Regions from separate parts of the Homo sapiens genome. Here all the other regions are linked to region 1. The links come from fine-mapping of genetic effects on gene expression. A gene starts in region 1. Each other region holds a variant in brackets. All regions are shown on one strand. Distances are between the middles of the regions.

Region 1 (8,105 bases):
TTCTGCTGCTTTCTTTTTATGCCATTTGTAACCTTAAAAAGTAACGCAGGGTGGAGGATGGCATACTTGTACTACAGAAACCAAAACCATAAAAATCATGGAACCAACATACCCACCCTCTAATGACAGCAAGTTTACACAAATATGGGGTGAGGGTGACAGCCCCTCATCCCATTCTAAATATGTTACCTCCAATACACTATGGATTATCAATTTTTTTAAAAAAGTTAGAATTGTGTCTAGAATAAGAGTAATTACATTCTGAGAGAGAGTCTTCAAGCTCCACAATTATTTTTTTGTCTCAAACATCACCATTTTGGATACCCTTTTCTCTTGTATTTAACTATAAGTATAGGAATTTATTGTCATTTACTTACCACAAACATACACAAATAGTGTATATTTTGTGGGTTACGTTTTTGTGGATTAACTTATAAATCTCTATGAAAAATATATTTCAAGTCCAAGTGACAAAAGCCATAAATAAACAATGCCACAAAGTCTATTTTTCTTTTGGAAACTTCAGGTAAAGTCAGTGGGTTGCATTTTTGCTACTTGTAGGTATCAAATGACCTGCTAGTCCTGGAACTGAGACTGGCCAGAAGTCTCAATGTTCAACTGGAGCAGTAGCTGAAGAGACTTATCTAAGGTTATAAGGATCCTGGGAACAAGACTGTACTAGAGAACTGATCATGACCATATCTGTTAAAAGAAAAACACATACAAATAAATCCATAGGGACTGATTCAATCATTTCTTGGAATCTCCAATGACCATGAGCCTGAGGCAAAGGATGAACCAGTGAATCACTAGATTCTCAATAAATTTAAGAGAATGAAAGCACCAAATTACATCCCACAAATCTCAAATAAATCATGTTTAATGCGCAGGATATCTCACTATTTAAAATCAGTCCTGCATAAAACGAGAGATATATTCATACTATTACTAGTAATTTTTTTTTATTATACTGAGATCGAGTCCCATATATGAATTTGGTTCCCATTTACCAAGTTTTAAAATCTCTAAACACTAGACAAAATGTGAGGGTTTTTTAAATTGATGATTACAAAATAAAGTGATACAAGATGACTTCGGTACAGGAAATCTCAGCAATCCAATGAATGAGTCATTCTGCACAGCCTAGTTTTCTGAATTGGTAAGAGCCTTACACATCAAAACAGCTCAGAGGTTAATTATTCTGGGTGTAAACATTTCCAAAGTATATTGAACATTTCCTTCTCTTCTTAAAGAGTGTATCTAAAAATGTATTATTTCCATAGTTCACCGTTAACAACAGTAAATAGCAATTATTTGTTTATGTTATTATAGAGTGGTGCCTACAAGGTCAATTGAGGGTTCCCACCCTAATATTCCCAAGCCTTCAAAGTTTCTGCCCCAATTCTTGTCTAAAGTTACAGTTTTTCTGTCTCTTTCCAAGTTGTCAGGCTGTCAGGGGTCACTTTTTACTACTGATTACAGCAGTCCCTCACCCCATTCTAAATGTGTTACCCCCAATACACTACGGATTATTTGTCAAATTTTTTAAATGTTAGGATTGTGTCTAGAATAAGAGCAAGTACATTCTGAGAGAGGGCCTGAAATATTCTCTTGGACTTTCATGCTATCTACTCTGGTTGCGAAGTGGACTTTTTGCCCCCTTCCTGGTTCTTGGCTAGTTTCCGGATATGCAGAGAGCCACACTACAGACTCAGGTATGCTATGACAACTCCTGATGCTCTTTATGATCCCCACACTCCGAAAGTAAACCAAATCATCACATGACCTCCTAAGAAATTTCTGTCCTGGCCACACAACAAAACAACTGCAAAGATTTCCATGCAGGCAAAACGTCTAGGCGAAGGATTAATCCAGAAACTGGAGACCAGTTCCTATCTTACACAATGGTTCTATATTTTGTATATCTACATCATTTAGCAGCATGAACAGGTGGGTATCTTATACAAATAAGTATGGCCAAACATGTCTTAAGGGAAAAAAAATGCCAAGTGACTTCAAAAAATTCACAGTTCAATTTTTTAAATTATGAGATTTTTAAAATTAGGCCACCTTATTTTAACATTTAACTGTTTTACTTACTAACCTGGTGGCTGCTCTATTGGGAAAAGTCATCTCCATTACTCAAAGGGAAAAAGTGCTGCTCCAACATTTGAATAACCTAAAGATGAGTTTGAACAGTCCCTACCAGCACTGAAATCAAGCATTCAACCTAAATGACTCTGCGTAAATCCTCTGCAATCTATAAAATGCAAAAGTTTATATAACCTTGTTTGTCAAACCTGAGAAAGTAAAACCGAGCAGGTAAACCAGGCTTCCCGCTGAAATTAAGGAAGGAAGCAAAGAGGGTGGATCATCAGTTACCCAATTATGCTTCCACACCCCAGTGAAGGAGGCTGGCCCTCCAGCTATTTATAAACGTGGAGCTCAACCAAAGGGGGCCCTGTCATCGCCACCCCAGTGAGTCCTGGTGTGAGCTGGGAGGCTCGGGCTCAATGGAATCTCCCTCAATGTGGCCCTCCATACTTGGCCATGCAGGATCTTTCGGGTGCAGTCCTGTCTGGTCAGGAAAAGAACTGTGAAGATTTCCAGCGGTCACTTCCACCCTATGATTCTATATATGGAAGCATCCCATTCTAGTGTTTTCACCATCGTGCACACCATACTAGGGAGGAGGAATGAGTAGGCCGGCTCGCTTCTTGCTGCTCTGAAGGCACACTCACTTTAGTGTCTCCCAGGCCCCACTGCCCTGGACTGGACCTTGTCATCAAATGGCAGCCCAGACCTCTGCTGAGCTTTGCAGGCTCGCAGCTCCAACATGGAACAGCTGGAAGAGGACCCTGCATTCTTTTCTCTGCATAAACACTGGGGACTCTGTTCACCCTCCTGCAGCAGCATGAACTAAAGAATTTCCCCCTATCCAAAATCACAACCATCAGACTTTCCCCCCATCCCCCAGCCTCCTCCTACCCTCCAGGATATAATTTCAGTCTGTCACCACCCACGCTAGCAAATAGGAAACTGCTGGACCTTTCGACTATATTCACTTTCCATACTAGTTGAGGTGTCTGTAAATACTAGCAGGGTAATATGAAACGATTCTGTTCTATTCAGTAAAGTTTCCTAACGAAAAGCATTAAGTAACCCACTTCATGCCTGTCCTTTCTCCAAGACCCTTTTTTTCTACAAGATCCGTATCAATATGGATAATGTCACGAGCAGTAAGCTTAACCGCATTATATATATATATATATATATATATATATATATATATATATATATATATATGCTGCAAATGTCATTTTACTAGTCTCTAGCGTCACCTGCATATTATTCTGAAGACGAAGCTCTAAAACCAGAATATCTGTGGGGAAAAATGAATAATAAAATTGGATTTTCATGTACTCCTCACACAGCCTTATCCAAGCTTGGCTTCTGAAGGGCAGTCCCGGGCATCTATCATGTGTTGCTGAAATCCAGCGAGCCACGTTGCCCAAAAGAAGGAGGAGGAAGGAAAAAACACACACACCCAGAAAATCCAGACTCTACGTGACCTGACTTACTTATTTCCCAGGAAACTGCATGAGAGAAAAATCAATCATTCATGCTACCGTAGCTACCACACGGAAAGGGCTGACGGAGTTCACAGTGGGCAAAATCCCAAAGCGGCCGGCGGAGGTAAGTAGGTGGGGGGCGGTAGTGGGGGGACACCCGGAGGGGGTGGATTCCGAGGGCCTCGGGGCCACGCCGTCCAGGTCCCGGCGCGGCTGGCAGGGACTGGCCTCGGCCTGGCCCGAGGCAGAGAAGCGGAGGGAGGAGCGGGGGTTGGGCAGGCGGGACGGCGGCGGCGGCCGCCGCACACTTACCGGGGCTGTTGGCCTCGCGTTCGAGGACGTGCAGCTCGGCGCAGTCGGCCAGCGAGTGCTCCAGGCAGAGCTGGAGGAAGCGGGCCTGGGTCTGGCTCACGCGCTTGAGCAGCGACAGCAGCGCAACAGTCTGCTCGCACTCGTTCCAGCCCTTAAACCAGCCCGCCAGCACCCCGACCTGGTCGCGAAACATCATGGTTAGGGGGCCGCCCTCGGTCTACAGAGCCCCCTGGGCGCCCCAGCCCGCCCCGCCCGCCCCAAAGTTTGGCGGAGCCGCAGCCCCGCGGCCGGAGACGCGTTCCTGTTCCAAGGTGGCTCTGGTGCCCGGACGCTGCAGGTACTGCCTGGGCTCCTGCCTCTCTTGTCTGGTTTCAGTTACGTTCCGGTGGTTCTGGCTGATTTCCCCAGAGACGATGACAGACAGTAGCACGGAAATGTTTCTTTAAAAAAAAAAACGACTTTTTAAAAATCCCCCACAAGGCACACAACTGAATGAAGAATGCTTTCTCCCCCCTTCTTGCAGCTTTGGGATGGTGATTTCCGGCGTCCTGGGGTCTCCTCCCCGCTGGGCGGCAACTCGGACCCTTCACGCCCGCATTCCCGAGCGGCGATCACCACTGGAAGGAGAGAAAGAGCTGCAGTGAGACCTCGGCTAGCGGAGGAGCGCGCCCTGGGGGGACGAGGGCATCAGAGGGTGCTGGGGCCAGGGGAGGGGGCGTCCCGCGGAAGGTTGGGTTCGCCGAAATCCAGCCGCCCCCTCCGCCCCCTCCGCACCCGATGTGGGAGATGGGCTATTCCCCACCGGGTAACAGCGAGAAGCCTGCTTCCCAGGTGCGGGAGGAGACCCCGCGGCTTCCTGTTGCTGCCGCTGCCAACGGCTGGTGCTCCCCTCACGGCCCGCCTGGGGTGGCCTCGGGCGCCGTGCTTAAGAACGCCAGCACCAGCAACAGATCTTCCCCGCGCAGAAAACTTGCAATGCGGCTGCGAAGGGGCGCGGGGGTGGGGGTGGGAGCTAATGCAAAGCAGAGGCGGAGGCAGCGGCAGCCCGAGTTCCTTCCTCCTCCTCTTACTCCTCCTCCTCCTCCCAGAGAAGCAGCCGAGCGGCTGCAGCTCCATCTACAGCAACAGCCAGCATCTCCACCGCCAGGCGCCCCTCTGGATTTAGGCCGTGAGCAGCCGCGGCAGCAGCTCGAGACAAAAATAAACTCTCTCCACCCAAAGCTCCGCGCCCAGCGGGCGGCGGCGCAACCCAGAGCCCCGGCTCCCCCGCGCCGCGCCGCACCAGCCCACCCGGGAGGTCTCCCTGGGCCTGCTCCGGCCGGAGCGGTCACTGTGCGCGCGCGTGTGCGTGTGTGTGTGCGCGCGTGTGTGGCAGGCATCCTGCCGCCGCCGCCTACGGGCTGGTCTGTCCGGCCCGGAGCCTCGCCCGCGCGTCGCAGGCCGAGGGCGGCACAGCGCTGGGCACACGCCCCGCGAGGGGACGGCCGGGGTCCGCAGCGCTGCTCCCTTCGGCCAGCGGGGCGGCCCCGCGGGGAATGCGGATCGGCGCCGCAGGCACACGCCCCCCAACGACAGCAAAGAAAGTTCGGCTGCGGGGGTTCCCCCAGTCCCATCCCGGTTCTCGTGGCCGCCGCCGGCGGGGAGGAGAACCCAGCGACTCAGCCTTCAAGGAGCCGCTAGCTTCCAACAACACGCTGCTTCCGGCTCCCAGAACTTCTCGGGCGGAGGGGGAAGCCCCCGGGGAGGGGACCCCCAGTGACCCGCGGGTCCCCCGCCGAGGGCCGTAGGGAGGGAGCGCTCACCTCGGCGCGGCTCATCCCGGCGGCTCGGGGGCCCTTGCGCGGGTCCGGGGCCGCGGCGGCTCTCAGCGGGGTTGGGGGCGCCCGGAGCGCCGGCCGCGGGCCATGCCGTCGGGGCGGGCGGCGCGGGGAGAGTGCGGTGCTTCGAGTCGGGGCCGCTGCAGCCGCCGCTGCTGCTGCCTCCAGTGTCGGCTCGCGGAGGACTGAGCCGCCCGAGCCGGAGCTCCCCACATGCTACTGATTAACATACACCATTACATCATGGGCTTGGCAGGGAGCGCCCGAGCGGGGGGAGAGGAACCCGGGCGGCGGCGACGGCACGCGGGGGGAGCCGGGGGGAGGAACCCCGGACCCGGCGCAGGGCGGGGGGACGGATTCCTAAGTGGGGACCAGAAAAAGGGGAGGGGAGCGGAGTGGGAGGAGCTGGTGGCGCAGAGGGGTCGGGTAGAAGGAACCTCCGAGAGGAACGAAGAAGTTCGGGGAAGAGGACGGGTCCGGGTGAATTTCTTCCTGCGGCCGCCTGCGTGTTCTGGAGGGGTCGGGACACTCAAGCCACTGGAGCCCCGGCAGAAAGGGACCCGAGGGCGCTCGGGCGGGGGCGGTGCTGCCACCCGCTGCTTGTCCTTGGGAATGTGGTTCGTCCGCTCGGCTGACCCTCGGCCCTTCTGGGGCCCCGGGGTGGCCGAGGTGTTTGGCCCCCGGGCGGTGAGACCCGAGGTCACTGCCGCACTTGCTGGGATGGGTTCCGGGGGTCGTGGAGGCGAAGGGTTCACGAGGCTGAGGGGCAGTGCGCAGGGTTGGACCTGCCCAGGCGCTAGGTTCCGTGCCGCCCTAGTCCAAGGGCCTGGCCCGGGTCGGGTGCCGGATGCCCTTTGCTCTGGCGCAGGCTCCTAGAGGCCGGCCCGGCGCCTGGCTGAGTCCCACTCTTCCCCGGGGAGGTGGCCGAACTCCTGAGACCGGTCGGGGGAGCTGTGCCTGGCGCGCGGGCTGCGGCTTCTGGCCTGGAGCGGAGGCGAGCGCCGCCCTGGGCGACAAAGAGGCGGGGCGAGGCCACCTGTCAGCGCTTAGGCGTCGCCAGGCCTCGCAACCTTCACCTGGATCTGGAGAGTGCGCAGGGCCGCGGCCACACCGGGGCTTCAGGTCCTTGCCGCGCGAGAGGCGAGGAGGGCGCAGCGCAGAGGCTGAGTGGCGCAGGGTGGGCTGCGAAAGTGCCTCTGCTAGTCTTGAAAGTAAAGGTTTGGTTAAAAATACCCTAAACCCTAAAAACCTCTGTACCTCCTGATATGGGTTGAATATTCGCAAGAAGGACTGGATGACTAAATCTGGGCTATCTCCGTGATTTCAGAGGAAACACTGCTCCCTCCAGCAACTTGAGGCTTTGTTTATACGGGAGTAATTCTGAGAAGGCAGTGAAACGCGTGTTTCAGACCCAGCCTTTCCTACTCCTGCTAATCCACTGTTTTGAAGAGAAAGTATCTGAGATATTATTCCACTAATTAACACTTTTGTTTTCCAACTCCGGCATATGTCCCTGGAATTTAAATGCTTTCTTCCCTTCCTCCTCAAATTTAGTTTCTGCAGCGTATAGTTCGTTTCAGACACGTGATAGCACCTAACCATCTGTTAGGGTTTTTGAAAGGTCTTGTCGAGGTCGAGCTGCAAAAATGTGGATTTTTTAAAAGTTAATTATTAACCAGACAGGTGAGGTATCCGCTTAATTTAATGAATATTTTGCCCTATTTAGAAAACAGGAAACCTGAAGTCAGTGTTTTATTTTTGTTTTGTTTTGTTACTGTAGAGGCAGAAAGGCTTGATAGATTTTCTCCAAGAGATTACTATGAATTAGCTAATTCTTAGTAATAACTTATATCAGGAAATAGGGAGGATTAGAGAGTATGGTCTACTTCGGTATATACCTTGCTATAAATTGTAGGCAAAGCAGATGTCGTTCTAGGGCTTTTGGAAGCTCCCAAGAGTGAATTTTTTTTAAAAGAAAGTGAAAAAACCAGAAATTTCATTAACATGTATTTTCACCTGCAGCTTACTAAAGGTATAGTAAAACTAAAAACAAAACAACAAAAAAAAAAAACAAAACTTAAGCTGGTGAATGAAAATACTGCCATCTACTGGAAAAGTGTAGTTCTTACACCAGCCTTTGACCTAGGAAAAGACATTGATTTATCTCATTTTTGAATTCTTACTGTTCAGGACACTCTAAGACATATAAAGTTGAGCATGACATGAGCTGTCAGTACTCTTGTATTTGTGTGTTAACAATTCCTTTCCTCTGGGCAAAGGAAAGGGAGTATAAATAAAACCCAGGGATGTGGCCTCACTCTTCCCCAGAGTGAAGTCATCACTCTAAAGGAAAAAAAAAATACATTCATTAAATATAAGGTATTGTATTAAGTGTGGATTTTTC
Region 2 (8,105 bases), 160 kb before region 1:
GCGGGTGGATCACCTGAGGTCAGGAGTTGGACACAGACTGGCTAACATGGTGAAACCCTGTCTCTACTAAAAATACAAAAATTAGCCAGGCATGGTGTTGCATGCCTGTAATCCTAGCTACTCGGGGGGCTGAGGCAGGAGAATTGCTTGAGCCCAGGAGACAGAGGTTGCAGTAAGCCGAGATCGTGCCACTGCACTCCAGGCTGTGCAACAGAGTGAGACTCCACCTCAAAAAAAAAAAAAAAAAAAAAAAAAAAAAAAAAAAAAAAAAGGAAAAAAAGAAGGCTGTTGTGATAAGCTTCATTCAGGTATGAATTACAGTGTTCTTTGTTGTGAGTTCAACATTAATTAATCAATAATATACATTAAATAAACTATCTTTAAACAGAAACACACATAAAACAACATTATGTATTGATAAGTTGACAAAAATGTGACCGAACCTAGCCCTGTATTTTCTCTAGAAGCAATCATTCAATATTCAATAATTCAGTGTTCACAACAACTTTATAGAATGCAGTTACCCTGAATGAGTAATAGACTATCTGTACACGTAAATACAAACTCTTCACTCCACCTTCCATCTTGTGACCTACCACAGTTTTCTCCTAGACCGGTGGTTCTCAACCTTGGCTGTACACTTAACTTCCTTTGAGCCTTTTAAAAAAAAAACCCCGATGCCCAGGTCCCATTCCAGAATAAGTCACTGAGAATCCCTGCAGCAGGGTCAGAGCATTTGTACTTTTAGATGCACCTTGGTGGCTTTAATCGATAGCCAGGGTCAAGAACCACTGCACTGGGCTGCCTTCCTGCCTCAGTACTTTCCCCCAAACTTTGTCCCACATCTTGGACAGTCCAAACCTCCCTAGATTGGCTGTTGCTTCTGCTGGTCTTAATAAGATGCCTCAAAAGAATGAGCATCTTGTTTTGTTTTCATGGGGCTTTTAAAAGACAAAATTCATACCCTCACTTTTCCCATCAATGATTATCTTATTTGCTTTGGATTCCCATGCAAAATTCTGTTCAGGTTCTTTAGCTCAGGGTTGATCACTCTTGCACTGCTCTCTAGATAAAGTAAATGATATTTTGAACCAGGGTTCCAATCCAAATGATACCTGGGCAGGAATTCCTAAAGACTCCCCAGAAAAATATTTTGACTCCTGGGCAATAGTGCTTGCCTCTTGTTGTGGTCATTTTCACCCTTGTAAGTAGGAAAGAGAGGGTCAGGGGTCAGCCTCAGGCCCCATTTGAATGTGAATCAGCTGCAGAAAGCTCCAGGCACATTTTCTTTTAGTCTGGAAATTCAGCTGGTGAGAGCATAACCAACTCACAAATGGTAAAAAATTGCATTCTAGATCCATGGACAGGTAGCATTGGCATCAACTGGGATCTTGTTAGAAGGGTTGACTCTTGGGCTTCACCCCAGACCTCCTGAACCAGGAACTGCATTTTAACAAGACCCTAGGAGATTTGTATGTACATTCAAGGTTAAGATGCTCTAACTACATACGCAGCTCTTGCTGGCTGATACTTGTTCTGTTGACGTTGGGGTAGGCATCAACCAAAACAAAAACGGACTGCTGAAGGGAGAAGAATTTGGGATTTGAGTTGGAAGTCATGTGGCCCTTCTGTACTTCCGTACCTAAAGTTTTCCCCATTAGTAGATAACAAAGGCTACGTTATGTGATTATTGGAAAAAATCTAATCATTTAATGCACATTAAAATGTTTTGCATATTGTAAAGTGCTCTAGAAATATTAGTTGTTAGCTGTTAGAGTAAGAATAACTTGGTATAAACCAACACTGCTAATGGAAAAATCATCTCAAAAGTACTAGCTAATCTAATGACATTCATGCAGCATTTTCAGCCTATTACATGTGGCATGAAAAATATATCTTGATTACTTGATAGTGTTTCACAGATTTACAAGAGGTAAATTTTCCATCATGGTCTGTCATACTGAAGAGAAACTTCACCTTGCTCTTTCAAAATCTTCACCTATACTGACAAACTTCTGCTTTTCCTGGTAAGAATCTTTTTTCTTTGATTCAGATTCAACTTGGTTTTTCCTTTCCTCTCACACATTTTAAGTGTCCACATTTCATGTGTATTTTATGGAGGGTCAGGAGATGTGAATCACCTCCTTTTCCACTAAATTTCAGTGCCCAGAACTCTTCATGAGAGCTTGTCTTTGTCCTGACATTTGTAAGCAATACAGATTGACTGAAATCCTTATTAAAGATTCTAAGTACCTCCATTATTTTAAGAAATTCAGGCTGAGAACCTATTACGTGTCTGGGTAACATTGGGTTCCTCATATGCAAAGCAAGAGGTTGGAGCAGATGAATTCATTCATTCATCGGATATTTGTGGAGTGCCCACCATGTGACATGCCCTAAAAGCTTGAGGTCACAATGTTGAAAAAGACATTACAGCCCAGTGGATGGTCTCTCAGCCCCTCCTAGAGCCAATTGCCTGTGATGCTGTTAGCCTATTTATGCAGTGCGGTTCTCTCTCACACCCCAGCTCATTTGGATGAGATATTATTGTCCCCACGTTATTTCTCCATATTTTAAAGTCTGCCTTATGATACCAGTAGAACAGCCAGTTAGGGTGTCAGGGTAAAGAAGCCAGCTGTTCACAAGGGCTGGATTCTGGAGAAAGGAATGCACCAAATTATACCGTTCTTCCCTGTTCCCAGGTCTCCTAATGTCTGGTTTTTCCTGCATATTTAGGATCTCATGGAAGGGTAACTGAATGAATGAACTCTGTTTTTGCTGTTTCCTCCTTACCTGCCCTGAGCTGGGGATATTGTACTGCTGTTTTCCCAAATGCAACCCAAAGACCCACCTGTGAGGCCCACTGTTCCCAGTCCTTTGGCCTCCAAAGAGGCCGCAGGAGAGTGCACACAATATCATCAGCTACCATTTGACAGTGCCGACTATGTGTCGGCTTCTTGGCTAAATGTGTAAACATGTTGTTCCATTTAATCCTCATTTAATGCTCTCTGAAGCAGATTCTACCATTACCCTCTTCCCACCCCCATTTCACAGATAGCAAGCTGAGGTGCAGAGGATAGCTGACTTGTCAAAGCTCAGACAGCTGAGCAGTGGAAAGAGCCAGAGTTCAAAATCCAAGGTTCTCTCACTTGCAAGCCTGTGTTCTTAGCCTGACACCGTGTTGCTTCTCATGGCAGAAAGAACTCTGGGCTTAGCTACTGACCCTGACTCTGAACAATCGATATTCAAAATCCTGAACAAGTCCACTAGCTTTTCAGGGCCTCAGTATGCTCATCTGGAAAATAGTTACAATAATGGTAATACCTTATTCCACCTACCTACCGGGGTTGCTGTGGGGGTCCTATGAATAGATGCGTCCTGCATTATTCCTTCCTTCCTTCCTTCCTTCCTTCCTTCCTTCCTTCCTTCCATCCATCCATCCATCCAATATTTGCTGAGCATCTGCCTGGTGTTGGGCATATGCTAAGCACTAGGAAGGATGACAATGAAGGCCAACTAAAATGATGTATGGGAAGATGCTTTATGAAATGAAAAAATGCTAATTGTTAACTTCCCAGAGAGTTAAGCTAACCTCATTTATTCACTCATGTAATGAACAGTGAGCATCTCTCTGCATAGGTACTGTATTAGTCGCTAGGGATACTGATGCCAAAAAGAGCATTCATAAAAAACAAGGCTGCACAGATGCAAACAGTATTTTCTATCATTTATTAAGCCATCACCTTCTATCATTCAGAAACACGCAGAAGCTAGAAGCCGCAAGGCAGTGTTAATATTCTAAGTAACACTTTCCATGAAGGTGAAGAATTGCTGAAGGATGTAAAAATTTTAGGTCATTTCAATTTCAATTAATTTGCCACAGTATTTCTAGGACTAATGAAAGTTTTTGAGGAGGTGGTAATGCACCAGGACCAAGATGCCTCTCTGAATCCTCCATTTTAGAGGGACAGTATCAGGGGATCTATATGAAAGTCAAAAAAACTATTCTTGCTTCTGTGGTAAACATATTGTTTCCCTGTCTGCAAGTTGGCTATTCCATGCAATCATTTACAATTCATGGCTCTGAGTAGCATAAAGATTCCCTATAACTAAATTAGAAATCACCTGCCCAACCACATGGAAAGCATCTCTTTTTCATTTGGGCTTTCCCCAAATGGTGCACAAAGCTTACGGTTCTGCTGTTCTGTGGGTGTTCTGAGGGCAGGGTAGGCAAGCATCTACACAAAAAATCAAACCAGAATCTTTCAAATTCAAATTAAATGCTGGAGGAGCAGCAGACCTAAGAGAAACACCTAGATGGGTTTTTTTTTTTTCTATTTAAAAATATAAGATAACCATAATGTCTCTCTGAACGAAAAGCTGTGCTTCAAGAATGGTTCTCCCAGAAATGAACACTGACTCACAAGGTACCAGATGGGGT[T/C]GGTATAGAGCTTTTCATTCTTGAGTCAGGCTGTCAAGGTAATTGGCAGAGAGCAATGCCGACATTTTATTGAAAGTAGAAGTTGTTGCTATTGTTTATGTGTCCAATAGAGTTCGTCCTGAGGGAATTTAAATGATGGTGCTACATTTCTTGATCTCTTCCTCCAAGAACATTACTTTCAGAAGACTGGAAGGTATAGGTAACACTGCAATTTGTCTCCCTCATGTATTTACCCCCGAGTTAACTCAAAATCCCAGAACTTTAAAACAGGAAGAAACATTAAATACATGATTAGATGAATATCATCTAATCCACTCCCCTTGCTATTTTATCAGTTAAGGAATCAAAGACCTAGAGAGATCTGGCAATTGCCCAAGGTCACTTAACAAAGTTGATGTTGACGCTAAGACTTAGAACCCTAATGTTTTTGGTCTTCATCCGTCACAGCATATCAATGGTCATTAGTTTTCGTATCAGTATCTTTTTGACAAAGAAGGGTAAAAAAATAAAGTCTGTGATCTAAAGTAGATAATTCCTCATTTAACACCAGAGCTATGCATTGCAGGACCCAAATGTTGAGGCCTATAGATTTGTACAACAGCTTGAACAGCATAAACACAGCAGGAAGTAGGACATCAAATAAACAACTGTATGCCAGTGGGGTTGTTCCAGAACCAAAGCTGTCACATCTTCACTCTGGGCTGGGATTTTCCAGGTCTGGGCACTCTGAATACCTATCCTTCTCATATTAGCTGTCCACCACCTGAGACATATTATGGGACCTTCTCATTTTTGCCTAACTGGTCAGAGGGACTGCCACCATTGATGTGAAGTATTGTTTATGGACTGGAAAAAGCAACATCTTCTTCAGCCAAAGCTGAAGTCGCCATGAAAGACTTATTTCACCATTAATACTTAATCTTTTTAATCAGTTTAGGTTGTATTTATTTCTGTGATTTTTATTATGAAAATATATTTATGCAGAGGTTTACAAATGGGATATTTATATGTAGACTGCTAGAAGCCATCATTTATCTACAAAATGCTATAATACAGTGTCCAATTTGTCATTTAAAAAGACTGGGCATTTTCACAAGGATGTCACTATTTCTAAGACCTAGGCCCTAGAGATAGTTATTTATTATTTGCTGGCACTTTAGAACTAAGCAGAACAGCAGAATCTCTTATTTTAGAGCCTCAAAAAAACTTCAGGGATCATTTAATTAATCTTTCCATTCTCTCCAGCCTAGTTTCTGGATAAGACAATGGAAACCGAGAGAAGGAAAGTGACAGGCTAAAGGTACCATTGCCAATGAGAAGAACTGAGCTCTAGTTCTAGTCTTCTTCCATGTGGCAACGTGATCTTCAGGCAGCCCCTTACCTTCCAAATGCAGCCCTCATTTTAACTATTAGAAATAGGCAACATCCTATTGATAATGAGAGTTATGGTGGGAAGATTACTATCAAGAAAAGTAAGAGCTTGAAGAGGAAGCTCTTGAGAGGTAAAAGCATTTCAGACACTCCCCATTAAAGATTTCTATTTAAGAGAGACAGATTTATCCCCACTTAAAATCAATGGCTCTAAGTAGCATAAAGTTTGGTTTCATTATCTAACCCTCAAAATTGAAATAATTGTGGATAAGATAGTTACTATTTATTGGGGCGTAGGGACTACACAAAGAGATCTAAATACATGCCATTCATTGATGTGCACATTCACTCATTTATTCATTCAACAAGCATTTATTGAACATCTACAATATGCCAGCCAGAGTTTTAGACAATGGAATGCTATGGTGAACAAGACCAGGTTCCTGACCTCTTAGAATTTATATTCTAGTGGGGGAGATAGATAATAAACAAGTAGACAATTAAAATAGACTGCCAATTTATGCGAATGTTATCTCTGTTCCTTCTGAAAACTCACAAAAATGACAGCAAAGGCACAAACTCACGAGGACAAAGAATGCAGGAGAGAAGATGACAGGAAATGAAAAGGTTATCAGCAGACCACTTGAAGTCAACAAACTGTTGTAAGCTGGAAGACAGAAGGACATGAGGGAACTGGCTCAGAAGACCTGAGAAAGGTGGTGTGTGTGCCCATAGCAAGGGAAAACATGGCAATTTATGTGGTAGAACTTCCATGAAGCTCAGGACTTGGAGAGCAGGTACCTCTGAAGGCAGGGGTGCAGGGAGGGGCTGGAAATTGGTGGTTTGGGGAACCTGGTGCTAAGCCATTCATAGACAACCTGTTTTTGCATTGGGTTTCACGTGCAGAAAAAAAAATAGGTTTGTTAGAATTTATGTTTAAGGTACAGAGAGATCCTCAGATTCTCCCTTCTACCCTGCTCAGCAAGGCAACTGTCATCTTAGCACCTTACTCCTAACAGGCCCTAGGACCCTCGCAGTAAGGCTTATATCCCTCAGGAGGAGGCTGGTAATGGGTTTCTTTAATGGTAATGGGCTAGTCCATGAGAAAAGAATTGCAGATGGTGATATATGTGAGTCCCACAAAAACAGCCAGGTTAGGTTCCTATCTGATCTCTCTGTGGTGAAATCTACACACATAAGGTTCTAGGTCCCTTCCTCTTAAATAAAAGGAAAGTAAGAATCAACAGATAACTGAGGAATGCTTCTTATTTGAGACAGAGTCCAACACAAACAGAAGAGAAAAAACTCCAAGAAACACAGGCAATATTGGGAGCAGAAGAGAACTCCAAAAATCAAATGTGATATCTTCAGAGACATTAGAAAAGATTTGGCAGCTATGAAACAAGAACAGAATGCAATACAAAAAGGAACCTTAAAAAGACAAAAAAGAACTCTCGGAATTTGAAAATATGATAGCAGAGATCTAAAATTACATAGTATGTTTGAAAGATCAAGTTATATGAATCACCTGGTGAGTAGAACAGAAAGATTAAAAGTAAAACAAAATAGGAGAAGAAACATTAAGGAGATTAGAAGATCAATAGAGAGGAGCTATTATCTAATCTGAAATTCTTTAAAGAGCGAGGAAGAAAATTAATGAGAGGAAATTATTTTGAAAATTCAAGAAAATTTTCTAGAGCTGCAGAAGCAAATATTTTAGACTAGGAAAGCTAGACTGAGGGTAACTAACACAGATGGGAGTAGGAGAATAGAAGGATGTCTTCAAGAAAAAGACTGTATGTAAACCCAGAGAGGACTTTCACAACCGCTTATGGGTGGCACTTAGTACTCCTTTTTAAGTTGATGAAATCAAGGCCAAGAGAGGTTAAGCTATTTCTCCAAGGTCACACAGGTAGTAATCAGTGGAACTGGGACTCAAACCCAGGTCAGTCTCACGCCACCATGTGTGCTCTGAACCACAGCTTGATATTGCCCAAGACCGTTCTGGACTTTGATTCTGCCATTCAGTATACTAGCAACCCTGCCAGATCTGTGCCATGAACACATGTTCTGGAATGAAACAGTGTGTCACAAAGAAGGGAATGTTGAGAAATAAGGGGTCATTTGTCCTAATTCTCCCTTCAATCCTAGAAACCAGGCCGCCTCCATTGCTAGATTTGGGAGTTGTGGATCAGAGCTGGAACAATTTGGGAAAGTCAGACTCAACTTTGAATGATAGGACTTGAAGAAAAGCAAACTTCTCCAGCACCAAAGGAAGCCTTCAAGTCTACTC
Region 3 (8,105 bases), 220 kb before region 1:
GCTGCATCAGATAACCTGAGGAAGGATAAGGCTGGTGGCAGGTGGACCAGTTAAGAGGCCCCTATAACAGTCTGTGCCAGAACTGACAAGGATTTTTTCCAGTGAGCAGAGAGAGGCATGGATTAGCCATCACAGGCGGTAGGAATAACTGCGTTCAGTGACCACTAAATGTGGGTGAGACAGGGCTGTGGGGTGCCTCCCTGGCTTTGCTGATGTCCCAGTCCAAGCCCCAATATTACAGAACTGGTCCACCAGATGCAGCATCTCTATTTGCTTGGCAGAACTTGGGTGTGAGAAGGGAGTGGCAGTGTGTTCCAGGGAAAGCTGGAGGACCCAAGTGACAGGCGTGCTGAGGCCACCACAGGGGGTTGGTTCCTGGCTTCCTTGTGGGTGGAGCCAGGCTGGCAACTCTTGCCAGTGGGGCCTTGGAGGAGAAGCACTTCCTCAGTTGAAACTTTTGAGATAACTGTAGGTTCACATGCTGTTGTAAGTAATAGTCCAAACAGACCCAGTGCACTTGTATATAAGTTCTGTATGATTTTAGGGGAGATTTTAAAGAAAGGAAGCAATGGTCCCTGAGTGTGTCAGTGGTGTCAGATCACCAATCCTAGAGGCCAACAGATGTGAGCCTCTCTTTCTCCATTCCTGAGTTGCAAGCATTGGAACCTCTTTCACTGTGCTTTCCTCTCCCTGCCCGTTCCTCTTCCCATAAAAGGACTTGACTCATTAGCATACTGTCTCCAGCAAGGCCATCTTTCCTGGCACCTGGAAGGGGTTGGCCAGCAGAGAAGCTCTGTCATATTGGGAGGGCACACTGCCACTGTGCCCAACTAGGCCACCCTGAACTTAATTTGCATTCTCTGCTCAGGAAACTGCTTACGAGGCTTCCCACCAGAGGAGATCATTGGGAAAAAACACAGCACTAAAAAAGCTTAGGAGATTAACAAGATGAAAACATTAGCAAAAAACCCATCGGTTCAGAGAGGTTTTCTGTAAAAACAGAACAGACTGAAAAAAACGAAGTCTTTTCAATGAAAACCTTCCTTTAATAAAGAGCATTTGGTATTCTTGCTGCTAATGATGATAATGTTGGTACTTAGCAGTTTGATATGAGCCTCCAAAATGCCAATTGTCTGAGATGTATCAAGCCCTGGGGGAAAAGGTCAGTTCTCCTTTTTCTTTGGTCAAAAGCAGTGAAAGACTGAGTCAGTCCCCCACCCAGCTGGCCACTGTCGAGCAGGGGAGCACAGGGGCTTCCCTCCCCATGTCAGAGCTCTGGCAGGTGCCAGCTCAGGGGACTCACTCACCAGCTGCTATCCTAACTCTGGCCCCAGGGAGACTGTCATTACTACTTTTAATTGAAATATTTGCATATCATAAATTGCACCCTTTGAAAGTATACAATTCAGTGGTTTTTAGTATATTTGCAAAGCTGTGCAACCCTCACCACTATCTAATTCCAGAATATTTGCATCCTCCTCCCTTCAGCCACTGGCAACCACTCATCTACTTTCTGTCCCAGTAGATTAGTCTATCCTGGACATTTCACATAAATGGAATCATACGCTCTGTGGTCCTTTATGCCTGGCTTGTTTCACTCAGCATAATGTTAAGATTCATCCACTGCATCGCATAGGTTGGTACTTCTTTGCTTTTTAAAGGCTGAATGCTCTTTCACTGTTTGGATACACCACATTTTTTTGAGCCATGTTCATCCTTTGGTGGACATTTGAGTTGTCTCCCATTTCTCATTAGGGGGCTGCTGACCCAGTCTCCTCTATGAGGTAAAGATGAGCTGGCAGCACCTCCTGCCAGAGGTACCAGGGATGGCCCAGTGATGTTCCTGAGATCTGAATGGCCAAGGCAGAGAGCAGTGGCTCGCAAATGAGGCTCTTTATAGAGCTCTGGGGGAAGTCACAGAAGGGGCTGTGTCTTCCCACCATCTGTTTGGTGAAGCTCTGTGATGCCCTTGGAAGGCTTTCAGCTCCCCCTGATGCTAAGGTCAGGTGGGTGTGGTCCCGGGCCCACCACTCTGCTCCATGCAGAGCACTGATCTATTTCATATTTGGTTTCAGGATAAGATTGTGTTTGCAGAGACTAAAAATCTAACAACCTTAGGTCTGGAGGACAAGGCTCTCTGAAGCAGCAGAGGATGGCAGTCTTTTCCCCACCACTGCCAGGTGGCGCACGTCTTGGCTCTAGGTGTGCAGACAGCCCTTCTCTGGGTGGGTAAGTGTGTCTAGACTGGATAGGGCTATCGCTTCTCGGCCTTTTGGCTAAGAGCAAGTGTAGACTGGATAGGGCTATTGGAAAGGCTCACAGGAGGCCTCTCTGTGTCTCTGTGGCACAGAGCCTCCCAGGAAGCTGGCAGGAAATGGCAGACATCTCTTCTCTCCTCTGCCTGCCAAGCATCATAAATATCCAGGCCCAGAGAAAGGTGCCCGCTTAGTACCAGGAGGGAGCTGAAGGCCTCCCAGGGCTGCTGTGACCAAGCATGGCTTCCAGCCAAACACACGGGGGAGCACAGATGCTTCTGTGAGCTGCTTGTGGGGCCACAGCCCTGCACAGCACAGCCCCCATTCTGGGCTTGGGCAGTGGACGTGCAGGCGCCTCTAACTCAACCTGTCCCTGTCACACAGGAAAGGACACCTCAGCCTGCTTTGGGCTCCAGGTGTCAAGAAAGTTGTTTGCAACTGGGAGATACACAAACAAGCTGGGTTTTCTGTTTTTCAAAAATTATATTTCTAAGGCAAGCTGGGCTATGCTTGGACCAGGCTGGGGGATCTAGTGCAGAGAAGGGAAGCATCCAGTGTTGTGCGGGATATTCCTACTAAAAGCCATGTCTCATGTCCCTGACTCCTCCAGGCCTGGCACTTGGCTGGGACAACTGCTGTGGTGTGATTCCCATGTGCACTGGGAGGTGGAGCTTCTGGGGACAGAGGGACAGCTTTGATTGCCAGGTCCCTGACTCACCTCCCAGAAAAGGAGGAGAAACAGGGCACTGGCCACTTGGCATGGTGCCGCTGGAAAATGGTCCAACAGTACCCTAAGGCCACTCTTTCTCCCTGTCCCCTGCCTACCCCTCCTTGTCCTCCCCCAATTCTCCTGAGCTCCTGCCACGGTATAGACAGCAGATGGCCAGTTCTCCCAGGCACACGGTAACAGGGACATGGGGACATGCAGGAAGAACACACTCACCTCCCAGGGCGTGTTCGGTCATACTGAGGCACAACGACTCCAGCCTGTTGTTGATGTCAGGTTCGGTCACGGGAAGCTGGAATTCTGCAGGCGATAAAGGGTTATGTTGGTGACAAGGAGGAGATAAGCAGGGTGCCACCTGGTTCCACCTTCAGGAGAAAGGTCTGGTGTACCTCCCTGGGAGGACTTGGGGACTGTCAGCGCTGGCATGGAAGGGGCTCCACTCAGGCTCAACCAACCTCTAAGGTCTGTTAAACACAGTCCACTGTGAACTTGGGAACCTGGAACAAAACGGAGACTAAAAATAGCTGGTCATGTCACAGTCTGTGCCTCCTCTGCTCAGAACCCTCCAGCGGCCTCCCATCAAAGTAACAGCCAACCTCCTGCCCTGGCCCATAAGGCCCCGCATGATCCAGGCCCTTGTTATCTCTGTACCCTCATACAGCTCTCTCCTTCCTCTGCTCTGCCCCAGGCCCCCTCCTACCTCACGGCCTTTGCACCGCTGTTCCCTGGGGTGGTTTCCATGGCTCTCCCTGCCTTCACATTTCTGGCTCTATCATCTCCTTGGAAAGGACTTTGTTCCTTGTATGAGCCATGCCCCCACACTATCCCTTTCCCCTGCTTTATTTTTCTTCATAGCCTTCGCCCACAGCTGTCATATTTGATATTTGTATTCACTTTCTACTGTCCCCCTCCCCTGACCCCGCTGAGTGCTCACCTCATTGGAGCAGAACATGGCTCTGCCCCCTGTGCCTAGAGCAGGGCCTGGCATGCATCTAGAGTGGGAGAGGAAAGCCAGGGCCCAGCACGCACCTCTTAGTGTGAGACCACGTGGGGGGCTTTAGGTGTGCGGGCTCCTTAATCTGCCCAACAAGCCCAAGTGGGGTTCAGAGAGGTGAAGTCACTCATCAAAGTTAGCCAACTAACACAAAGCTGGGACAAGACCCTCTCTGACTCCAGAGCCGGGGCTCAGCCACCTGCCACAGCAACTGCAGGTAACTGTCAACACACTCAGCCTCGAGGGCCTCTAGAATCAAGGGCTGAGACACCCACTCTGCAGGCAGTAGGGGCTCGGCTCCCACTGACCGACAGTGCTGTGCACATTCTCACCACAATCTCCCCTCTACCACCTGGAACCCCTCTATCTCCCCAGGTTCCAATGTCGCCTCTTGTGAGCAGGAGGCAGTGTCTGGGAGCCACCTCCTCTCACCTGCTGGAGCCCTCACTGTCAGCACCTCCGCAGGCCTCATCCAGTGGCGACTTTAAATGTCCTCAACTACCTGGAAGTGCCTTGTAGACAGTGATGATGCTTCCCTATCTCTCTGAATCTCCCACAGCGCCCAGCCCTGGCCTTCTGCCTCATACATGTCTACTGAGCGAAGAAAAAGAGAAAGTAGAAGAAGTAGAAGGAAACTCTGACAGCTAAGAGTTGTGAAATCCTTTTTGTTTTT[T/G]TTTTTTTTTTTAAAGTTTTGTGACACTGGTTTGAAAAGAATTGCAAAATCCTAAGGGGAGAGGCAGAAAAAAAGTCCCAGAGGGGGTGTCCACAGCGGGGTGTGTTCCAGGTGACCGAGAAGTCTCCGTGTTGCCACCACCTTCCTCTGTGAGCCTGGGAACCTGTTCCATGCTGAGGGCCTTAGCTCCTCTACCTGTCAAGTGGGCAAAGCATCCCGGGGTCCCCCTGCAGGCCACTTGCCTGCTCCTTCATGTCTCCACCAAGGGAGCACATGGGGCCAGAGAGAGAAGAAAGAGAAGTGAAACGAAGTTGGTGGCTTGGTGGGATAGGAAGCTGAAACCAATGGTTAAGTCAAAGTTTTGTTTTCCTTGATTTGCTATACATTAAGATAATCTCTGCAATGTGTGTTTCCCATTGTCAGCTAATTCAGAGGCAGATGTTGCTTCCGTTATTTAAAAATCTCAGAAGCCTGGCAAAAAGGAACGCTATGGAAAGCACCAGAGAGCTGACTGTGTTCTTCCTGACCCATGTTCCGGCATCGATGGGTTTGGAAGACAACCGTGCCAATACGTGAGCAGACGGAGGCCGACTGAGCTTCCAGGGAAGTGGGGTGCCACAGAGAATGGCAGGAGTCTCCACCGCCCCCACCCACTAGTTGCTGTTAGAGTAGGGTCGGGGCAATTAGACAATTCCAGGGGGAAGAGATTTTAGTATTTTCATCCATTCATGTGAAAATCATATGCATGCAAAAATTAGCAGTCTTCAGGGTGTGAAATCTATAAAATAGAAACACAATTTTATATATAGCGAGTTAGCAAATATGAAAAAAAAAAACAAACCTCAGCAATTATAGCCATCCATATGCTCATTGTAAGATTTAGTTTACTCTCCAGCGCTCCCCTTTAAACAAACACTGTGGAGAGATTTGGATAAATAAAGATGCTCGACATTTGGAGAGAAGTGTTTCAGCTGCAGGATTTCTTGCCAACACGCAGCAAAATGCCATTTTCCAAGCCTGGGATTGCGTGTTCCAAAAAGGGGGCTGAGAAACGCAGGGCTCTCCGCTCCAGAATCCCCAAACCTTCGTGGCTGCTCTTTTAGGTGGGAAGTGGGGGTGTTCGCTTCTTCTCCCCAGCTCTTTGCTTCCATGCACTGGGGAGCCGTGACCCCCAACACTCCGAGTGGCTCTGAAAAATTCTAAGTCTTGGGAGAAGCCCATATGTTCACACTGCAGAGTTTCCTAATAGTGTGACTTTTTAATTGTGTATTTGATAAAAACAGATCCATGCCATCTCGCCGCACGTATAAGACAGAAAGACCAGTTGGGTGGAAAACAGCTTCCATCTCAGGCTAGGAACCCTCAGCTGTATGGGGCTAGGTGCCCCAGAGGGGCATTCGGGCAGCTCTTGCCCCACAGACCAACATAAACCACCAGGCCAACCCTTGCTGTGGCTCCTGTTAACCCTGAGGGCCCATCTCATTTATCCCAGGCCCCTGCCCCTCGTGGCCACAGACCAGGCAGATGGAGATGTGAGTCTTCAGGAAGGCAAAAGGAAAGACCCCTCTTTAACTGAGCCTCCTCTGCTCTTTCCCAAAGGAGGCATGTTTCTTCAGCTCAGATGGCATCTCTGAGGACCAGTATTCCAGTATTCAGTAAGGATCGCTAGTTTTGGAATCCCCAAGGTCTAGGCTGACTTGAGACATTAATTGTATCTTTTCAGAAGTCCCACACGTATGGAGTAGTCCTGTGCTCAGGCCCAGGGTCAAGAAGATTCCGGAAGAGAATGCTACCCATCCCTAATGAGGTGCTGCTGCAGCATCCACCTGAGGAGCCCAAAGGGCTTGTCCTTGGCAGTAACCGTCCATCCCTGCTGGGTCTCACATGTGTGGCACCCACGGTGCAATTCTGCAGTGCTTTTTCTCCAAGGCACTGAGGGTAAGGAGCCAATTTCTTTAGGACTTTAGAATAAGAAACAGGCTGGGGCATTCCAGGAAAAATCTATAGAATCCCGTTTTGCCAATGACAGCGGAGGCAACTCTGTTGGATAACTAGAAAGGTGTGGAGTCTGGTTCACTGAGCAGCAGGGTTGCTAGGAGGAGAGAAAGCAGGGAAGACAAAAAGGGACAGAGCAGTGGGACCTGGTCTGCTGTGATGAGATGAGTAAAGAAGAAAGGAAGACAAGAGAACTAAGAAGAAAGGGGGAGGATGGTAACAAAAGGGAAAGAAACGGCACAGGCAGGGAAACAGAGGGGTGGGGCAGCAGGCAAGCTGAGGATGGCAGAGATGGCCATGGAGGGTGGCAGGAGTAATGAATAGCATCCCTGAGTTGACCATGGGAACGCACCTTTTCTCTGGTGGCCTCCTAACATTCCTAAGCCTGCAGAAGGTCAGTGCCTGTGGAGGTCCTCTGGGACCAACGCTTTCACAAAAAGTGATGGGTACAACATGGTATAAGATGATATTGTACCATCTTGCCCCAAGTTGATGCTCAGAGGCAGGAGGCTGTGGGCCCAGCTGGGTTCTTGGCTATGACAGAATTGATTTATTTATCAATCTCCCTACCCATTGTCTGCCAGTCCTGAACAGGGATGTCTGCCTTGATTTATTAGAAGACATGGAGGAAATATTTATCCAGTACTGTACTTGGGTCCCTGTTCTGGTTTCTGCCTCTGCATGGCAGCCCCTTCCACACCCCACTGGACCCAGTGCACCAATAACTCTCTATTCTTTCTAAAGGCAGTTCTCCGGAAGGAAATGAAAAATAACAGCCTGGAGCCCTGTGCTCCCAGATATATGCAGCGTGCTTATGGCAGAAGAATCCCAATTGTGAGCTGGTACTTAGAGGAGGTTTGCTGTGGTGATCAGGTAAGTCACACCATGAAATGCTGCCATGTGAGGTGCCACTGGACCCAGCTCACATCCAGCTGGTTCACAACCAAGGGTAGTTTGCATGTGGCTTTGGGCAAGGGAAGAATGAGATTTTCAGAAGGCTGTGCAGCCTACCCTTCTGAAGGTTTTCCTTTGAAGCCTGCTATGGGGTTCCCTGCCCTTTTCTGTTAGGCCCTCCAGGGGGTAAAGAACCTCCATGATCTCCTACTGTTGAGCCAGGGCCACTCCAAGATCCTCTCTGACTGGATCCCAAGGACAACTAAGCCTGGGTCAGTAGAAATTAGTTGCTTCCAAAATAAAGGATCCCTCTCCAAGCAATTTCCAAACCAGTTATCTAGTTGAGAAAACGCCCTGCCTCCATGAGGAACGTGACCATTCGCACAGGCGCCACACTTGTTTTCTGGTGAGCGTATTACACCTCGTAGTGTTTCTTACTCATCACTGGCAATAGCCACCTGAAGGGTCTCCTGGCTGGTCCCAGGAAACAGCTAAAACTTGTCCATGTGAAGGTGGAGGTTGCAGTGAGCTGAGATTGCGCCACTGTACTCCAGCCTGGGTGACAGA
Region 4 (8,105 bases), 130 kb before region 1:
GGAACAGATGCCAAGAAGGCATCACTGCCAATTCTTTTTCTTTTTTTTTTCTCTTCTGAGACTCATGCTATTGCCCAGGCTGAAGTGCAATGGCACAATCTCATCTCACTGCAACCTCTGCCTCTTGGGTTCAAGTGATTCCTTAACCTCAGCCTCCCGAGTAGCTGGGATTACAGGCATACACCACCATGTCCGGCTAATTTTTGTATTTTTTGGTAGAGATAGAGTTTCACCATGTTGGCCAGGCTGGTCTTGAATTCCTGACCTCAAGTGATCTGCCCGCCTAGGCCTCCCAAAGTGGTGGGATCACAGGCCTGAGTCTCTGTGCCGGCACCCCAATTATTAATCCTCTCATATCTTTTAACTGGGGGTTCCTGCATGAAGACAGGCACACGAGGTCTAATTGCAAAAGCATTCCTTCAAGAAAGTTATCTTGGCACTGCCACTGCATTCATGGACAGGTGCAAACTAGCATTAAGGAACGCTGTTTGAAGACAGGGTGCACTTCCACACCGCTACTTTATACAGACACCAATGGTGTGTTTGTCACTTTGCTCAGCCTCAGTGGGGAGACACAGAGAGGACTCCCAGCCCCAGTGCCCAGCTGAGGGTGCAATACTTTGCTTTAGTGGTCAAAAGAGCAGAGGGCTGTCCTCCGCTCTCCCCACGCACAAAGCAGTTCCTGACCCACCTCTCCTAAGGTGTTGGACTGAGCGAGAGAAGTCCATGGCATTCTCACCAGGCCACAGCACACAGCAGCATTCTCAGTTAGCAAACCTGCTCCCACTGGTCAGGAAAAAAGTGCCCCAACAATTGGGGATTAAAACCAGAAAATGCAAAGGGAGGAAACATTCCAGGGTGAAATTTAAGAAAAAATAAATAAATAAAGAGAAAGAAAGAGGAAAAAAAAAATAAAGAGAAAGCACAAAGCCCATGAGGCTGCCTGGTTAACCATGGGTTAGAATTAGGTTTAGAGAATCACACAGTAACTCAGTGTCTCAGCAAATCCAAAACCCCAGGGTGAAAGACATGGGTGAAATGCATTTCTGATTGTGGAAACGGCAAGTTTCCTTCTTTCATTTATTGTCTATTTATTTTTGGTCTGTTTATAACCCAAATTTGGACCATCAGTCACTTTTACCTTCCCAAGTATTTTCATCTTTGCAGAGTCAAAGAGCAACAAATATGGGGTCCAAAGGACCTTTCCCACAGCCAATTCCAATCAGTCCTTCTCTCCCAGGGTCACAGGGTGCATGGAGCAGACACTGTCAGCAGGACATGCCACATACACAGCAAATCGCCAAACCAGACTACGTTAAAGGGATTCCGGGGAACTTACTTGTACTTGTGCTGGTTCCAATCGTATTGATTGTGGTGGGGACAGATGAGGAGGAGTAGAGGGGCACATGGCCATTCTCACACCCCATGCTTTTGTCCTGCCAGTTGGAGGCATTGATGCAAATCCCAGAATCCCGAGAGTTCTGCCACCCATTGAGCTTGTCATCAGAGTTCTGTCTTTGGTGATAGTAGTGTGTCTGTCCATAATCCACAGAGTCTGAGCGGCCTCGGTTCTGGCCACCAAAGCTGGTCGACGTGCGGTCCTCCAAGTGATTCAGCCACATGGCTAAAGCACTACGGTCTTCTAACGAAGTGGCTGGATGTATCAAAGCATAGGACAGCAGCTGCCTGCTCTCCTCAATGTGCTGGTTGTGTTCAATAGAGTGAGCCAGGATTTTGGGCAGCAGTTTCATATATTCTACTTTCGCGTCGAGGTTTCCTGGCTTCAGCAAAGGCAGATGAGTTAACAGGAGGGAAATCACTTTATCCTTGGATTCCTGTTGCCATTGGTTAATGATTCCTGAAAAGGGAAATATACACGGCAAATAAGCAAATACACCCACAGTGACTCTAAACAGATACTCTAAAGAGAATTTTTATGGATTAGGGTCCCAATCTACATAGTCTGGCTATATTTTCTCAAAAGAGCCTGTGAATCAGATTGGTTAACTGACCCCAGGTTTTCAAGGGCCAGAGGCTCCAATGAAACACAGATCAAACATTCTTAGATATTGAGTACTCAATCAAATTCTCATTCGTGTTTCCAAAAAAGCTACAACTACTTTGGTACAATCAAATACAATGTGCAGCTCTGTTTTCTTTCTGAGAAAGGTCTAGCCTACCCCCTGATAGACAGGGGGCTAAGACTAAGAAGCTCTCCATAGAAAAGTGAGTATGAACAAAGGTCCCATTCCAGAGTCCTGGGGGTGAGGCTGCTTCACCTCCCCCAGACATCTGTTGAAAGTGATTTAAATCCTGGTAAAGGCATTTGTGTGAAATTGGAAAAACTTCCTAGATGGAGAAATTTGTCAGGGAAAAAAAGAGCTCCCCTCATCTCTGTGCAGTAAGACTGCACCTTTCTCATGAGAAGCTAACTCAGAGTGACTATGGGCTCAAAGCTAGAATATGCAATGGACCGAAGACTTGGCTCCTGAGACACCTCTAATTGCTGTTTTGCTTTATGTAGAGATCAGCTTGTTTTTATTGTGGTAAAATACACATAACATTGATCATTTTAATCATATTTAAGTGGATGTTCAGTGGCATTAGGAACATTCACAGGCTGGGGGTGGTGGCTTATGCCTATAATCCCAGCACTTTGGGAGGCTGAGCCAGGAGGATGGCTTGAGCCCAGGAGTTAGAGACCAACTTAGGCAACATAATGAGACCTCATCTCTACAGATAATTAAAAAAGAAATAGCCATGTGTGATGGTATATGCCTGTAGATCCAGCTACTCCAGACGCTGAGGTGGGAGGATTGCTTGAGCTTCAGAGGTCGAGGCTGCAGTGAGCTGTGATTGCACCACTGTACCCTGGGGCTTGGGTGACAGAGGAGACCTGGTCTCAAAAAAAAAAAAAAAAAAAAAATTCACCGTTTCACAGTGGTGTGCAACTATCACTACCATCCATCTCTAGAACCCTTTCATCTTCTCAAACTGAAACTCTAACTACTCTAGGTACCACAGAGAAGTAGAATCATACAGTGTTTGTCCTTTTGTGACTGCCTTACTTCACTGAGCATAATGTCCTCAAGTTTCAAGCTCTGGGAAGATCTGTTTTTAACACACTCAGAAGGATCCTTTCCATCCCCTCTCACTGATTAGCCTTTGAGAAATAGCCTGTCTTGGGATTGACAGTTATTCACAGGCTCTGGGCCAGAGGAAAGAAAGCTCATTTTCAGGGAAGTCATTCCTGACACCTGGAGATCTCAACACTGGCCCACTGATGACCCTACAAGGGCTAGGGCTGGACAGTCCTGCTGGTTTTTATGCCATATCTAGAAGGTTGGAAGGGGTTTCTGGAATTTAGCAGAAGGGCTTAGCAATTCCAGCTAGGTGCAAACATAACAAAACAAGCCCAGTTATCACTGTTGACCATAAGCTACAAATGCATCAGCCTGTGCTGCAATGCTTCTCAAGACTATGGGAAAGAATATTTCAAGAAAAATACCAGCAAAAAAAGAGGCATGGTATATAATGAAAGAGCATGAGCTTTGGAGTCAGGCAAAGCTGGACACAAATCCCAGACATGCCATTTAATTTGTGGTAGAACCTTGGTAAGTTACTTAACTTCTCTGAGCCCCAAATACCTTCTCTGAGCCCCAAATAGCATCTGCCCCTCCATGTGCTGTGGGATTAAATAACGTAAAGTAGCAAAAGGGCTGGTCAAGTACTTGATGATGGAGGTAATTCCTTCAGCTTGTCTCTGCATAGCTGGAATCATGTTAGAGCAATGTGGGTGGTTTGGGATGCCAAGTTTTAAAAAACAAAATATAGAGAAACCAGAGATGACCCAAGAGAAGTCACTAAAAATGATCAAGGAGGTAGAAAGTCAAAAGGTGAAAAGAAAATGGGTTTACTGTGCTTACAACAATATGAAGAGATGCTTGACTCACTTCAAGTGGGATTTCATAAGGAGATGCCAAAGAGTCAACTACTTGTAGAAGTCTCCAAACCGAAGCAGGAGAGATTAAGATAGGACGTGGAGAAGAACAGAATTGCCAGAATAATGAAAGACTCAGAATCACCAAGGAAGGCTTTAGAATCTCTGCCCTGGGGTCTGAATGTTATTCAGTAACAGAGTGAGACGATCTTGAGGAGCACTGTCCAACAGTAATAAAATATAAGCCATATATGGTATTCTAAACTTTCTAGTAGCCATATTAAAGAAGAGACAGAATAAACAGGTAATGTACATTTTAATGATATATTTTATTTAAATAATCAAATTATCACTTCATTATCCATTATCATTAATGAGCCATTTTTCCTTTTTTTGAATTAAGTCTTAAAAATCTTTTAAAAGTCTTAAAATGCCAATGTATTTTTTATCATGGACAGTACATCTCAACTTGGATCAGCCACAGCTGAAGAGCTTAGAAGCCTTATGTGGCTGGTGACTACTGAGCTGCTGAGCACAGGGCTGGAGACATTCAGATGGGGAAGGCTGGCAGGAGGGCACAGA[T/C]GACCTCAGCAAGTCCCTCCCAGCTCCCTGACTCTATATTTAGCTAATTGCCACCTGACACAAGACAACTCTCACACATTCCACTAGGTATAGCCTCCCTTTTAAAGTAGCGCTGAGAGGCAAAGAAAATTCCAATTCTAACTTTCTCCTCAATTCATCTTCAGCAAATACCAGGCATGTTTTAAATGATGAATGTGCTTAGCATGAAGATAAAATCTATTCATTAAGCCCAAGAGGCACTGAAAAGAAGCAAAAGGGGCCAAGAAGCAAAAGGGGTTATGCTGTAAGCCTACTGTAATCAGAGGTGGCTAGTGTACATCCTTGAAAATGTACATTTAAAGATAAAAATTAGGAATGACTTCTAATAAAAAATTCATGAGGCTGAGGAACTCCCTAGCTTTCTGCTAGGTCATTTCCCTGATTGGACATTCTACCCTTCCACAAAAGGTCAACCTAAAAAAAAAAAAAATCAGCAACAAAAACAAAACATAAATAGGAGTCATAGTACAAACGAAACATGTTATCTCCATGTAACCGCTCTCTGCTGTGGATTAACCTGGGATTCAGAGGAGGAACAAGCATAGCAAAGAGGAAGGAAAACGAGAGGCCGCTGGCCCCGGTCCCTTTATCCTCAGGACAGGGCTTGGATGGTGGGACCAGGAAGACAAGTATTGCTTTTGTTTACTACCACTGGGAACACAGAAATCAGATTGCTCTCTGAGGGCTAACTACACCTACTGGATCAAACTATTTCTGCTACTACTCCAGCTGCCACTGCTGAGAGCCAACAGTATTGAATGTTTTCGAAGTGCCAGGCACTCTTCTAAGCCCTGTGCATTTAATTACTCACTTAATCCTCCCAAGAAGCTTATGAGGTAGGTCCTATTACTAGCCTTCTTTTACAGATGAAGGCACAGGGGCACAAATGGGCCAAGTTACTTGCCCCCAGCCCCCTGCTAGTGAAGTGGCAGAATGGAGGTAGGCAAATTTGATATTAGATACATAATGGCTGTCCTGCTACAACAGCGTGGCCATAAGCCAAATATATTGATATTTATAACATAATTAGATGTTCTATAGTTATATGATACAGAATTACATATAAATGCATACAAATATGTAATAGTTATAAACATTATATAAATGTATTAATAGAGTACATGGATAATCACAGTTGGTGAGCAACAGAAGTATAATAAAAAGGAGTTACAGAGACAATGTAAGTTATACCTATTGTGGTTTAAAATATGTTAACTATTTATTTGACACACCTCTTTGAAAGGTGGAGCCTAATTCCCTTCCTTCTGAGTGCAGGTTGGATTCAGTGAGTCACTTTCAGTAAATAGAATGTAGGGGAAATGGCGGTATGTGACTTTATGGATTAGGTTATAAAAGGCATTATGGCCTCCCCTTGCTGTCTCCGAGTACTCACTCTGGGGAAAGCCAGCTGCCATGTTGTGACATCATGCAAGCAACCCAATGGGGAGGTCCTTGTAGTGAGGAACCGAGGCCTCGTGCCAATACCTAGCACCAAGTTGCCAGCCATATGAGGGAACCATCTTGGAAGCAGATCTCCTAGCCCAGATAAGCCTTTGGACAACTGCAGCCCACATACCATTTTGAGGAATCCTAAGCCAGAATCTCTCATATTTCTGACCCACAGAAACTGTGTAACATGTTTATTGTTTTAAGCTGCTAAGTTAATTAATACACTATCCAACTGTCCCTCTAGGTAAAAGGAAGTTTTAGCCACTTGGTTTTGAATACATCAGTCTTTCTGGCAAAGCCATTCCCATTCTGGCATGGACCCATGAAGTTCCCGTTGCCACTAAACATTTCCCTTCCTCAGCGCCCCCGTCCTGATTATCCACTCACAAAACAACCTTTGGACCATGATTTAGCTCCCCAGCTACCCTCAAGGAGAGAATGAACTGATCATAGAGACTTGAGGTATTTCCAAAATCTGTGATAATGATTTGTCAGGGCAACTTAATACATAATTTCTGATTATGATTTGGCTTCCTGTGGAGGCCTGCCGACAAGGACAATGTGTGCTGATTATATGGACTTGGAGTACGTCTGGTCTCTCTGATGATGGCTCCTCGTGGCAAATTAACCAGCCAGCATTGCAGTGTCTACCTCCCTGCTTTCTAGTTAGCATGAGTCAGTCTTTCAGGAGAGTATCCCCAGGGTGCTGACAAGCGTGAACATCTCTACCTTCAAACGGAAGCCAGACCCTACATGCAGGGACTTGGTCACACTGGCTAGGTCCTGTCCAACTGCCCACTGGCCTCTGTGGCATCCACACTATCTTCCAGAGAGCAAAGAATCTTTGCTGAGATTTGCATTTGACAAATTCTCCTCCCTGGGGAAGATGCAGGAATCCTCAGAATTTTCAATTAATTGATCACTTCTGAGATCCAGTCTCTACCATTACTCACCCCAATATCACCTGATTCAGGACACAGTGGAAAACTTAAGTGCAAGAACTTCAAGGTTTGATGATGTCAGCTCACCTCTACTATGTTTTCTGAATATTTTCTTTGTTATTTCTCTGTATAAGGAGCAGAGATGTAACAGTTCTATTACATGGATGTTTAATGTGGATAAAAGTTAATGATTTATAATTTGTAAACCAGTGACATAGGAGTAGTAAAAAAAATTAGAAGAGCTATAATTAAAGACCATGAGGATTAGGAAACTGTCCCAATGATTTTTGGAGTGACAAAGAGTGTGTTTAAATACCAAGTCTGGTATTATTGCTACACAATGGTATGTCAATGCTTAAGGGCTCTAGTTGTTAGTAAATTACTCTTAAATTGCTATTTTATTATACCCTTGTTTTCAGTTTAATAACGTTTGCCATAAAAGGGTTTCTCACAAGCGCATTTAGGCAATTTGCTCATGCAAGAAATGGCTAGGAATTAAATGCACACACAGAAGAAGTACTGGTGAAATAAATGTGCTAAAAGGCAGGAATATTGGTGGGTTTTACATGGTCAAAGACTCCTTGGAAGAATGTTACAAAGTCAATCCTAGACACATCATGTACTAAAAGCTTCTAAATATAGTGCAACTCTGCACAACTCAAAAGTGGATAACCACACACACCATGTATTTATTTGTAGAGATATTTTTCAGCCCAGGGCACCTGAAAAATCAGGGCAAAAATACCAACATGGCAAATGGTGGGATTCTTGTGTTGGCACCTGCACTTGAGTTTGTCTCCCAAGGTACCCTCTTGAGCTAGAGGTGACCAGAGAAGAATCCCCATAATTTGGTGGGAGCCCTGCTAGTGGTATGGATTAGACCAGTTGTGATGGGGAACCCAGTCTGGAGTTATGAGCCCTTACAGCTGCAAGTAGTGTTTTGAAAAGGTACAAAGGATTGAAAAGATATAAACCCTCCCCCTATTTTCTTTTTCTTTTTTTTTTTTTTTTTTTTCTGAGATGGAGTCTCACTCCGTCACCAGGCTGGAGCACAGTGGCATGGTCTTGGCTCACTGTAACCTCCGCCTCCTGGGTTCAAGCGATTCTCCTGATTCAGCCTCCCAAGTAGCTGGGATTACAGGCATGCGCCACCA

Alleles and levels. Positions count from the first base shown, and alleles are read on the strand shown. Sizes are in standard deviations (SD) of each study's normalised expression. Not every link is listed here.
In carriers of allele T in region 3, the expression in monocytes after triphosphate RNA of the gene that starts at base 4,869 in region 1 tends to be higher than with G alone (moderate effect, 0.55 SD a copy in Kim-Hellmuth 2017).

Evidence for each region.
Region 2: its variant is fine-mapped to the expression of SAMD4A in whole blood (TOPMed, PIP 0.99).
Region 3: its variant is fine-mapped to the expression of SAMD4A in monocytes after triphosphate RNA (Kim-Hellmuth 2017, PIP 0.95).
Region 4: its variant is fine-mapped to the expression of SAMD4A in cerebellum (GTEx, PIP 0.96).

Annotation. Positions count from the first base shown.
Region 1 is chr14:54,563,892-54,571,996 of GRCh38, reverse strand. SAMD4A (sterile alpha motif domain containing 4A) reads right to left here and starts at 4,869. Exons shown (of 13, transcript NM_015589.6): 1 at 4,659-4,869; 2 at 3,885-4,501. The coding sequence starts at 4,080. RefSeq lists silencers at 3,838-3,897, 4,138-4,197, 5,038-5,227, 5,348-5,397, 5,958-6,087 and 2 more.
Region 2 is chr14:54,719,333-54,727,437 of GRCh38, reverse strand. All of the region lies in intron 3 of SAMD4A (sterile alpha motif domain containing 4A), which reads right to left. Among named protein-coding and RNA genes, the nearest start is that of SAMD4A-AS1, 35 kb to the right of the region's middle. The variant T/C (reference allele first, on the strand shown) is at 4,442.
Region 3 is chr14:54,779,714-54,787,818 of GRCh38, reverse strand. SAMD4A (sterile alpha motif domain containing 4A) reads right to left here. Exons shown (of 13, transcript NM_015589.6): 12 at 3,199-3,282. Among named protein-coding and RNA genes, the nearest start is that of MIR4308, 94 kb to the left of the region's middle. The variant T/G (reference allele first, on the strand shown) is at 4,650.
Region 4 is chr14:54,695,815-54,703,919 of GRCh38, reverse strand. SAMD4A (sterile alpha motif domain containing 4A) reads right to left here. Exons shown (of 13, transcript NM_015589.6): 3 at 1,340-1,858. Among named protein-coding and RNA genes, the nearest start is that of SAMD4A-AS1, 12 kb to the right of the region's middle. The variant T/C (reference allele first, on the strand shown) is at 4,523.